Linked DNA regions of Homo sapiens: regions 1 and 2 are each linked to region 3. Evidence: fine-mapped expression QTL. A gene starts in region 3. Each other region holds a variant in brackets. All regions are shown on one strand. Distances are between the middles of the regions. Region 1 overlaps KLRD1 (killer cell lectin like receptor D1). Region 2 has its middle 26 kb from the start of LINC02446. Region 3 holds the start of KLRK1-AS1 (KLRK1 antisense RNA 1).

Region 1 (2,770 bases), 35 kb after region 3:
ATACATTAAATTTAAAATATATACATATACATACACATAAATTATAAATATGTATCTTATTTTTATATATTTAAATTATAAAATAAATGGTGGAGTAAAATTAGCAAGATGACAGAGTGGGAAGCCCTGGTCTCTTTTCTCTCTACAAATGCACCAATTCAACTAAAAATTCATAGACAAATTTTCTTTGTGGGAAATTAAGAAACTAGTTGAGATGCTCCAATGCTGTTGGTGAAACTACTCATGTTGAAGCCTTAGGGAAATCTAAGGTACACTCCTTCCCTAATTCCTGCCCCCAGCACAGTGCCAAAAAACCAGGGAGAAACTCCCCTGCTCCCAGCTTTGCTCTTGGTTAATAAATGATGGATGGCATGTCCAATTCCCCAATTTTTCCAGGGGCTACTCCTAAGACTGGCTTCTCTCTAGCCTGTCTCAGTGTACTGATAGAACCAAGCATAGCCTGGCTGCGTGGGACCAGCAAGAACATAGATGGTGGGGTGAGCTGGCAGTTTCAACCACTCCTTGGATCAAGATGGAGTGAGTGGACCAAAACCTTTAACTCTCAGCTTCTCCTTGGGGGAAAAAGTTGAACTAAACAACTGATAATCCATATTTTCTGGAGATTGCCTGAGGAGCTAGCTTTATTCCTGTTTATCTCAGAGCACTGACAGGACCTGGGATATTCTAGATGCCTGGAATCTACCAAGAAAAAAAGAAAGCCAGTTGGACTAGCATGAAGGTTGAAGAAGACTGCAAAAATCCTTCGCCAAATAATAACTAAAAGACAACAAAAAATGCCTTTACTGATATTATAAAAAATAGACTTTAAGTCAAAAATTGTCACAAGAAAAAAAGAAGGATATTACATAATGATAAAGGCGTCAATTCACATTGGAGGATACAATAATTTTAAATATATATGCACCCAACATCAGAGTATCTAAAGGTATAAAGCAAACATTGACTGAACTTAAGGGAGAAATAGATAGCAATACAATAACAGTAGGAGATTTCAGTGCTCACTTT[T/A]AATAATGGATAGAACAACCAAACATAAAGGCAACAAAGACCCAGATGACCTGATCAACACTGCAAGTCAAGTCACCTACAGACATGTGCAGAACATTCCATCCAACAGCAGCAGAGTATACATTCTTCTCAAGTGCACATGGATCATTCTGCAGGATAGATCATATGTTAGGTCATAAAAGAAGTCTTAAGAAAATTAAGAAAATTGAAGTCATATCAAGTATCTTTTACAGCATCAAGGGAATGAAACTAGAAATCAGTTGCAAAAGGAAAACTAATAAATATGTGATAATTTAACAATACATTTTTGAACAACCAATCTGCAAAGAATAAATCAAAAGGGAAATTTAAAAACACATTAGAATAAATGAAAACAAAAATAAAGTCTAACAAAACTTATGGGATGTAGTAAAAGTAGGGCTAAAAGAAAAGTTTATAGTGATGAATATCTGCATTAAGAAAAAAGAAAGGTCTCAAACAATGCACTTTATACCTTGATATGGTTTGGCTGTGTCCCCACCCAAATCTCATCTTGAATTGTAGCTCCCATAATTCCCCCATGTTGGTGGAGGGACCCAGTGGGAGATAATTGAATCATGGGGGTGGTTTCCCCCATACTGTTCTCATGGTAGTGAATCAGTCTTATGAAATCAGATGGTTTTATAAGGGGAAACCCCCTTTGGCTTGGCTTTCATTCTCTCTTGTCTGCCGCCATGTGAGACATGTGTTTTACCTTCTGCCATGATAGTGAGGCCTCCCCAGCCACGTGGAACTGTGAGTCCATTAAACCTCTTTTTCTTTACAAATTACCCAGTCTCTCAGTTAAGTCTTTATCAACAGTGTGAAAATGGACTAATACATATCCCAAGCAACTAGAAATGTAGAAAAGAACAAACAAAGTTCAAATTTAGAAGAATAAAGAAAATAATAAAGATTAGTTCAGAAATAAAATAGTGAATGGAAAGGATATATAAAAAGTAAACAAAACTAAGAGTTAGTTTTTGGAAAATATAAATAACTTGACAAACCTTTAGCTAGACTAAGAAAAAGAAGAGAGGCCTTAAATAAATGAAATCAGAAATAAGACATTGCAACTGATGCCACAGAAATATAAAAGATGGTAAGAGACAACTAAGAACAATTATAGGCCAACAAATTGGATAACCTAGAAGAAATGAAAAAATTCACAAAGACAAGGACCTACCAAGACTGAATTATGAAGAAATAGAAAATATGAGCGTATCTATAACTAGAATGAAGATTGAATCAGTAATCAAGAAACTTACAACAAAAAAATTCCCAGGACAAGATGGCTCTTCTGGTGAAGCCACCAAATATTTAAGGAGAAATTAATGGCCATCTTTCCCAAGCTATTATATAAAAATTTAAAAAGAATAAATACTTTCAAACTAATTTTATGTGGCCAGCATTACCATTACACCAAAGCTTGTCAAAGATACCACAAGAAAACTATAAGCCAATATGTCTAGTAAACGTAGATGCAAAAATCCTCAACAAAGTAGTAGCAAAATTAATTCAACAGTACACTAAAAGGAGTATATGCCATAAGCAAGTGGCATTTATCCCTGGGGTGCAAGGATAGCCTAACATACAAAATCAATTAATGTAATATACCACATTAATAGAATGAAGGATAAATGTCACCTGTGCATCTCAATAGATTCAGAAAAAAAGTTTTCACAAAATTTAATACCCATTTTATGATGATAACTCCTGCCAACCT
Region 2 (2,770 bases), 220 kb before region 3:
TAGAATTTGTATAAACTTATGTACATCCTTCTGTATGCATTAAATCATCTCTAGATTACTTATAAACATAATACAATGTAAAATATTTGGTATACTTTATTGTTTAGGGAATAATGACAATAATAAAAACTATATATATTCAGTACAGATTGGATATTTTTTTAAAAATATTTTCGTTCTGTAGTTGGTTGAGTCTGTGGATGTAGAACTCGTGAATGCAGAGGGCCAGCTGTATTTATATAATTGTTATATCCTCTTGCTGAATTGACCTCTTTATAATTACATAATGACCATTTTTGTCTCTTTTTATAGTTTTTCAATTATAGCCTAGTTAACTGATACAAATACAGCTGCTCCTGTCTTCATTTGGTCTCCACTTGGGATATCATTTTCATCCTTTTACTTCCAGTCTATTGTGTCCTTACAGGTGAAGTGCTTCTCTTACAGGTGAAGTACTTCTCTTGCAGGAAGCATAAAGTTAGGTCATTCTTTAAAAAATCAATTTAGCACTCTATATCTTTTAATTGGAGAACTTAATACATTTACATTCAGGGTTATTATTGATAGATGAGGATTTAGTCCTGACATTCTATTATTTTTATTTTCTAAGTTCTGGGATTCATGTGCAGGATGTGCAGGTTTGTTACATAGGTAAACATGTGCCATGGTGGTTTACTGCACCTATCTACCCATGACCTAGGTATTAAGCCCACCATGCATTAGCATTCTATTATTCCAAGCATCAGATTCACCTGGAAAACACAGCCTGATGAGTCTCACTTCCAGAGTTTCTAATTTTGAGAAACTGGAAACTAGTAGTAAGATCCACTGATATTGACCAGTACATACCCTTGAACTCTTCACTGGCTTGCCTGGTTACACTACCAGAACCAGCTTTGGCCACAGGCCAGCATCCCAACAGCATTTCACACTATTGTATAGGTTTTTTTTTGTTTTATTTTATTTTTTATTGACACATAATAATTGTACATATTTATGGGGTACAGTGTGATGTTTCAATACATGTATACACTGTGTAATGATCAAATCAGGAATCAGGGTAATTAGCTTATCCATATCCTCAAACATTTATCATGAATCAAGATCGGATTCACCTGGAAAACACAGCCTGATGAGTCTCACTTCCAGAGTTTCTAATTCAGTAGTATAGCATGTTAAACTGTGTCCCCCAAAAGGTAGGCTCCAGTTCTCACCCTGAAGAATGTGAACATGACCTTATTTATGACCTTATTTGGGAAAAGGGTATTTGCATATGTAATTAAGGTAAAGATCATGAGATCATGCTAGATTATGGTGGGCCTTAAGGGGTCCTTAATCTAATGATGGATGTTCTTTTAAGAGATAGGAAAAGACACAGAGACACAGAGGGGAATGCCGGGTGAAGACAGAGGAAAATATTGTAGTTATGCATCTATAAACCAAGGAAGTCCAAGAGCATGGCACTGGCATCTGGCAAGGGTCATCCCATGGTGAAGGCATTACATGGAGAGACAGCGAGAGAGAGAGAGAGAGAGAGAGAGAGAGAGAG[C/AGC]TTTTTTTACAACAGAACCACTCCTGAGATAACGATCTCACTCTCATGAGGGAATTAATCTATTCTTAAGATTGAGGTCCTCATGACTTTAATCAACTCTTCAAGGTCTTACCTCCCAATAATGTCACAGTGGCTATTAAATTCCAACACTGAGTTTTGGAAGGAGCATTCAAACCAAAGCACCTCTAATGGTAACATCTTGTAAAATCATGGTATAATATCACAACTTAGTTATTGACATTGATACAAATGCAGAGAGATTCTATCACAAGGCTCCCTATTATTGCCCTTTTAGAGCCACACCTGCTTCCTTTTCTCCATTCCTTGTTCCTGACTCCTTCTCTGTTTCTATAATTTTATCATTTCAAGACTGTTAAGTAAATGAAATCATACGGTCTGTGACCTCAACGTAATTTCCTGAAAATCTATACAAGTTTTTGTAGGTATCAATAATTTGTTCCTTTTATTGCCAAGTAGGTATGGATGTATCACAGTTTGATTACATTTACCTATTGAGGAATATTTTGTTGTTTTCAGGGTTTTTTGTTTTGTTTTGTTTTTTTGCTATTGCAAATAAAGCTGCTATGAACAGGAATAGACATTTTTGTGTGAACATAACATGTTTAATTTATCTGAGATAAATGCCCAAGAATGCAATTACTGAGTCCTATGGTAGTTCGTGTTTAGATTTATAAAACACTTCCAAACTGTTTTCCAAAGAGGCTGTAACATTTTGTATACCCATGAGTGATTCATTTTCTTTGCATACTGGCCATCATTTGGTGTTGTCGTTATTTTTAAATTTTATCCCTCCTGATATGTATATAGTGATGTCATTAGAATTTTTTTTTAAATAGATTACAATTTTGAGCAGTTTTAGTTTTACAGAAAAATTGAGTGGAAAGTACAGAGAGTTTCCATATACTCACTCACCCTCCTCCCAGTTTCTCCTATTAATATCTAGCATTAGTGTGGTGTATTTGTTATAATTGATGAGCTAATATTGATATGTTATTACTAAGTAAAGTTCATGGTTTATATTAGTTTCACTCTTTGTATTTTACATTCTATGGGTTTTGACAAATGCATGACATATATCTACCATTACAGTGCTGTAAAGAATAGGTTCATTGCCCTAAAAATCTCCTATGCTTCATCTATTCCTCTCCTCCTTCCTCTCTCTGAGGCCCTGGCAAACACTGATTTTTTTTTTTAACCATC
Region 3 (2,770 bases):
GTCCTCTTAAGAGGCAGAAGCATAACTTGGGCATGACTTGACCTGAGACGGCCTGCCTACCTTTTTGAGCCTTTCGTTTTAACTTCCTGGAGCTCCGATTTCTCCTTCTCAGGTGAGAGTGGGAGCATGTATCTGTTTGAACTTACCTCCTTAGGGGCAATTAGCCTTGGTAAGGGGGGATAGATTGGAATATAGGTAGGAAGGATCTCTATTCCATCCTGTGATTCTTGCAAAACTGGTTTTCTCTTTCCTGAGACTCTTTTTTTTTTTTGGTCTGCATAGCTTCCAGGGCAGCTGACTTTCACTTTCACTTTTGGATCGGTGGTGCTAGAAGCCTCTGTGACTTTCCCTTTAACTCCGTAGCTGCCAGCACAGTTGGTTTATCTCGGCGTGAGCTGCGAGCATTCTACAATAAACTGCTAGGCAGGGCTGCGTACATTTAGCCATGAGTCAATATAAAGACTAGGTCTGAATGCCCTGGCTGTCCTCCGACCCTAGTCACCACCTTAAAACACACGGCCAATTTCTCTACAGTGCCTTCGGCCAGCCATCTGACACTAAAAGAGGGCTATTGTAATTCACAGTATGTCTTTAACTTTTGAACATCCAGTTTCATCCCACAATCACCTCTAAATCCTTTCTTTAAAATTTTTATCATGCACTCCAAAGGAGTTGGTTTTGACGCTTTCCCTCCCATTTCCTCCCTTGCGGCACACTCTCACTCTCACTCTCACTTTCACTCTCAGGTCCAGCAGACCCGGTCCTATTACAGGAGTTTCGGACACTGCTTAGCCAGGAAGGTGTCTTCCCCTGTCACAGCCTGCTACAGCTGCAAAGCTCGTCCTATCAGCTGTATGCAATGTCCTAGGTCTGATTTCCCCCCACACTCGCCTCAGAGCACACAGCCCGTGCTAAGGGATCTGTGCCTCCCCACGTCACTCCCTGCATTGGCCTCTCCCGAGACCATCGCTTTCACACACTTTCACACACCTTCCTTGCCCCAGGATTCCTCATTGGACGAAATGAGCCTCTCTCATGTCCCGGGTGAGTCTAGTTAGGCTCCCACTTTCACACACATACACCACTCCTACTGCAGGAGTCCTCATCGGATGGAATGAGCCTCTCTCATGACCTGGGTGAGCCTAGTTAGGCTCCCATATTCACACACATACACACACCACTCCCAGTTCCTGTCTCCAGATCCAGTGAACCACTTTCACTTTGTTAGTGGGGACATAAGCTTCATCCAAATTGGCAGGCCACTCCTGCTGCCCCCAGCCACTCTGGGTTGGATTAGTGGTCAGTCCCTGGGAGGTGATCAAGCTCCCCTTTGTCCCTATGGGACGGGCTTTCCTGCCTTGGGCCTATACTCCTTACCACAGTTCCTGAAGTGCTGGTATCGTCCTGCAGCCCCATCCTCGGTTCCATTGCGCTGCCAGGCAGGGTGCTGGGACGTGGGGAGAGCTGGTCTATATATCCGGGTGAAGCTCAGCTGTGGCACACCTTGGATGCCGGGTCTCTCCTGGCCCCGGGGACCTAGTATCGCAGGCAAAGGGGACAGTAAATCTGTCATCTCCAATCCTGATGAGCCCCCAGAAATGTATCGGGATATATAAGGAATCAGAGAGACCAAGGGATTGAGGAGGATATTTATTATTTAGGTGCACTGGTCCACTTGGATTAACATCCAAAGGACTGAGCCCCAAACAAAGAGTCAAGTTACCTTTTAAGCATTTCGTGGGTGGGGGAAGATTTGTGCAGGGGGAAGCGTATAACAGAAGCAAGAAACAAAGACAGTTATTCAATTGAGACATACATGACATCATTTCTTTTCAAGGAAAAACATGTTTTATGACTTGAGTTTATCTGTCTAGTGACCTTGCAGCTGCACAGCTAGAGAAATAGGGTCTTCATAATGCCTGGGAAAGGGAGAGATAAGGCTCACTAGCCACAGAAAACAGGCAGTTAATTTTTAAAGGACTCCGGCTCTTTCTCTTCCTCAGGGGGGAATTGGGTTTTCTTATATACAACTGAGTTTTTGCTTACACATTCTGTAATTTATTTTAATTCCTGTTCCATGCCAGCCACCTATGCTGCTGTTTTCCCCCTCCTTCCCCTTTCCCTAGGGAAGGGACTGGTGGCAGTGGGGCTATTCTTTCTTCCCCCAAGAAGAAAGGAAAGGGGGGTTCTGAATATTTTTCTTACTACTGGGAGTTTGTGTGAGGTTCAACGCCCCCCTCCCATGGGGATTCCTCACCTCTTTCTGAGGTTCAACCCGCCTCATGGGGATTTCTCACCTCTTTCTGAGGTTCAACACCCCTTCTATGGGGATTTCTCACCTATTTTTAACCTCCAAGACATCCCGACTAAGGAATAATCTACTGACCCTGCAGTTTCTCTCTCCTTGGTACGTCCTAACTAAGGAATGCTTTACCGTCCTGTGGCTTTTTTTTTTTTTTTTTTTTTAGTCCCGATCACCAAGGAAATACTTTATTGGCTCCCACAGCTTCTTCTTTCTTGGCCTGTGCACAAAGTTGTCGCCACAGTATGTGAGGATCCTTTAAGCTAGGTTGCTGGCCAGTTTCTTTTTTTTTTTTTTCTCTCTGTGTTGCTGAGAGTCTGGGTTTATTTGTCTCAATTTGTCATTCCTGAGGGCCCCTTCAATGAGGTAGGGGAGTGCACTCCCTCATGAGAGAGGACTGGAGACCACCCCTGGAGGAGAATGTATCCCCATACAGACTGCCACCAAATTGTTTGAAATGCTTGTTCC

The links.
Region 1: its variant is fine-mapped to the expression of KLRK1-AS1 in blood mononuclear cells (TOPMed, PIP above 0.99).
Region 2: its variant is fine-mapped to the expression of KLRK1-AS1 in whole blood (INTERVAL, PIP above 0.99).

Annotation. Positions count from the first base shown.
Region 1 is chr12:10,327,844-10,330,613 of GRCh38, reverse strand. It overlaps KLRD1 (killer cell lectin like receptor D1), which reads right to left. Exons shown (of 6, transcript NM_002262.5): 6 at 1,006-2,770. Among named protein-coding and RNA genes, the nearest start is that of LINC02617, 9.1 kb to the left of the region's middle. The variant T/A (reference allele first, on the strand shown) is at 1,027.
Region 2 is chr12:10,577,661-10,580,430 of GRCh38, reverse strand. No RefSeq gene overlaps it. Among named protein-coding and RNA genes, the nearest start is that of LINC02446, 26 kb to the right of the region's middle. The variant C/AGC (reference allele first, on the strand shown) is at 1,550.
Region 3 is chr12:10,362,641-10,365,410 of GRCh38, reverse strand. It overlaps KLRK1-AS1 (KLRK1 antisense RNA 1), which reads right to left and starts at 1,642. Exons shown (of 4, transcript NR_120430.1): 1 at 1,378-1,642. RefSeq lists enhancers at 592-661, 1,122-1,171.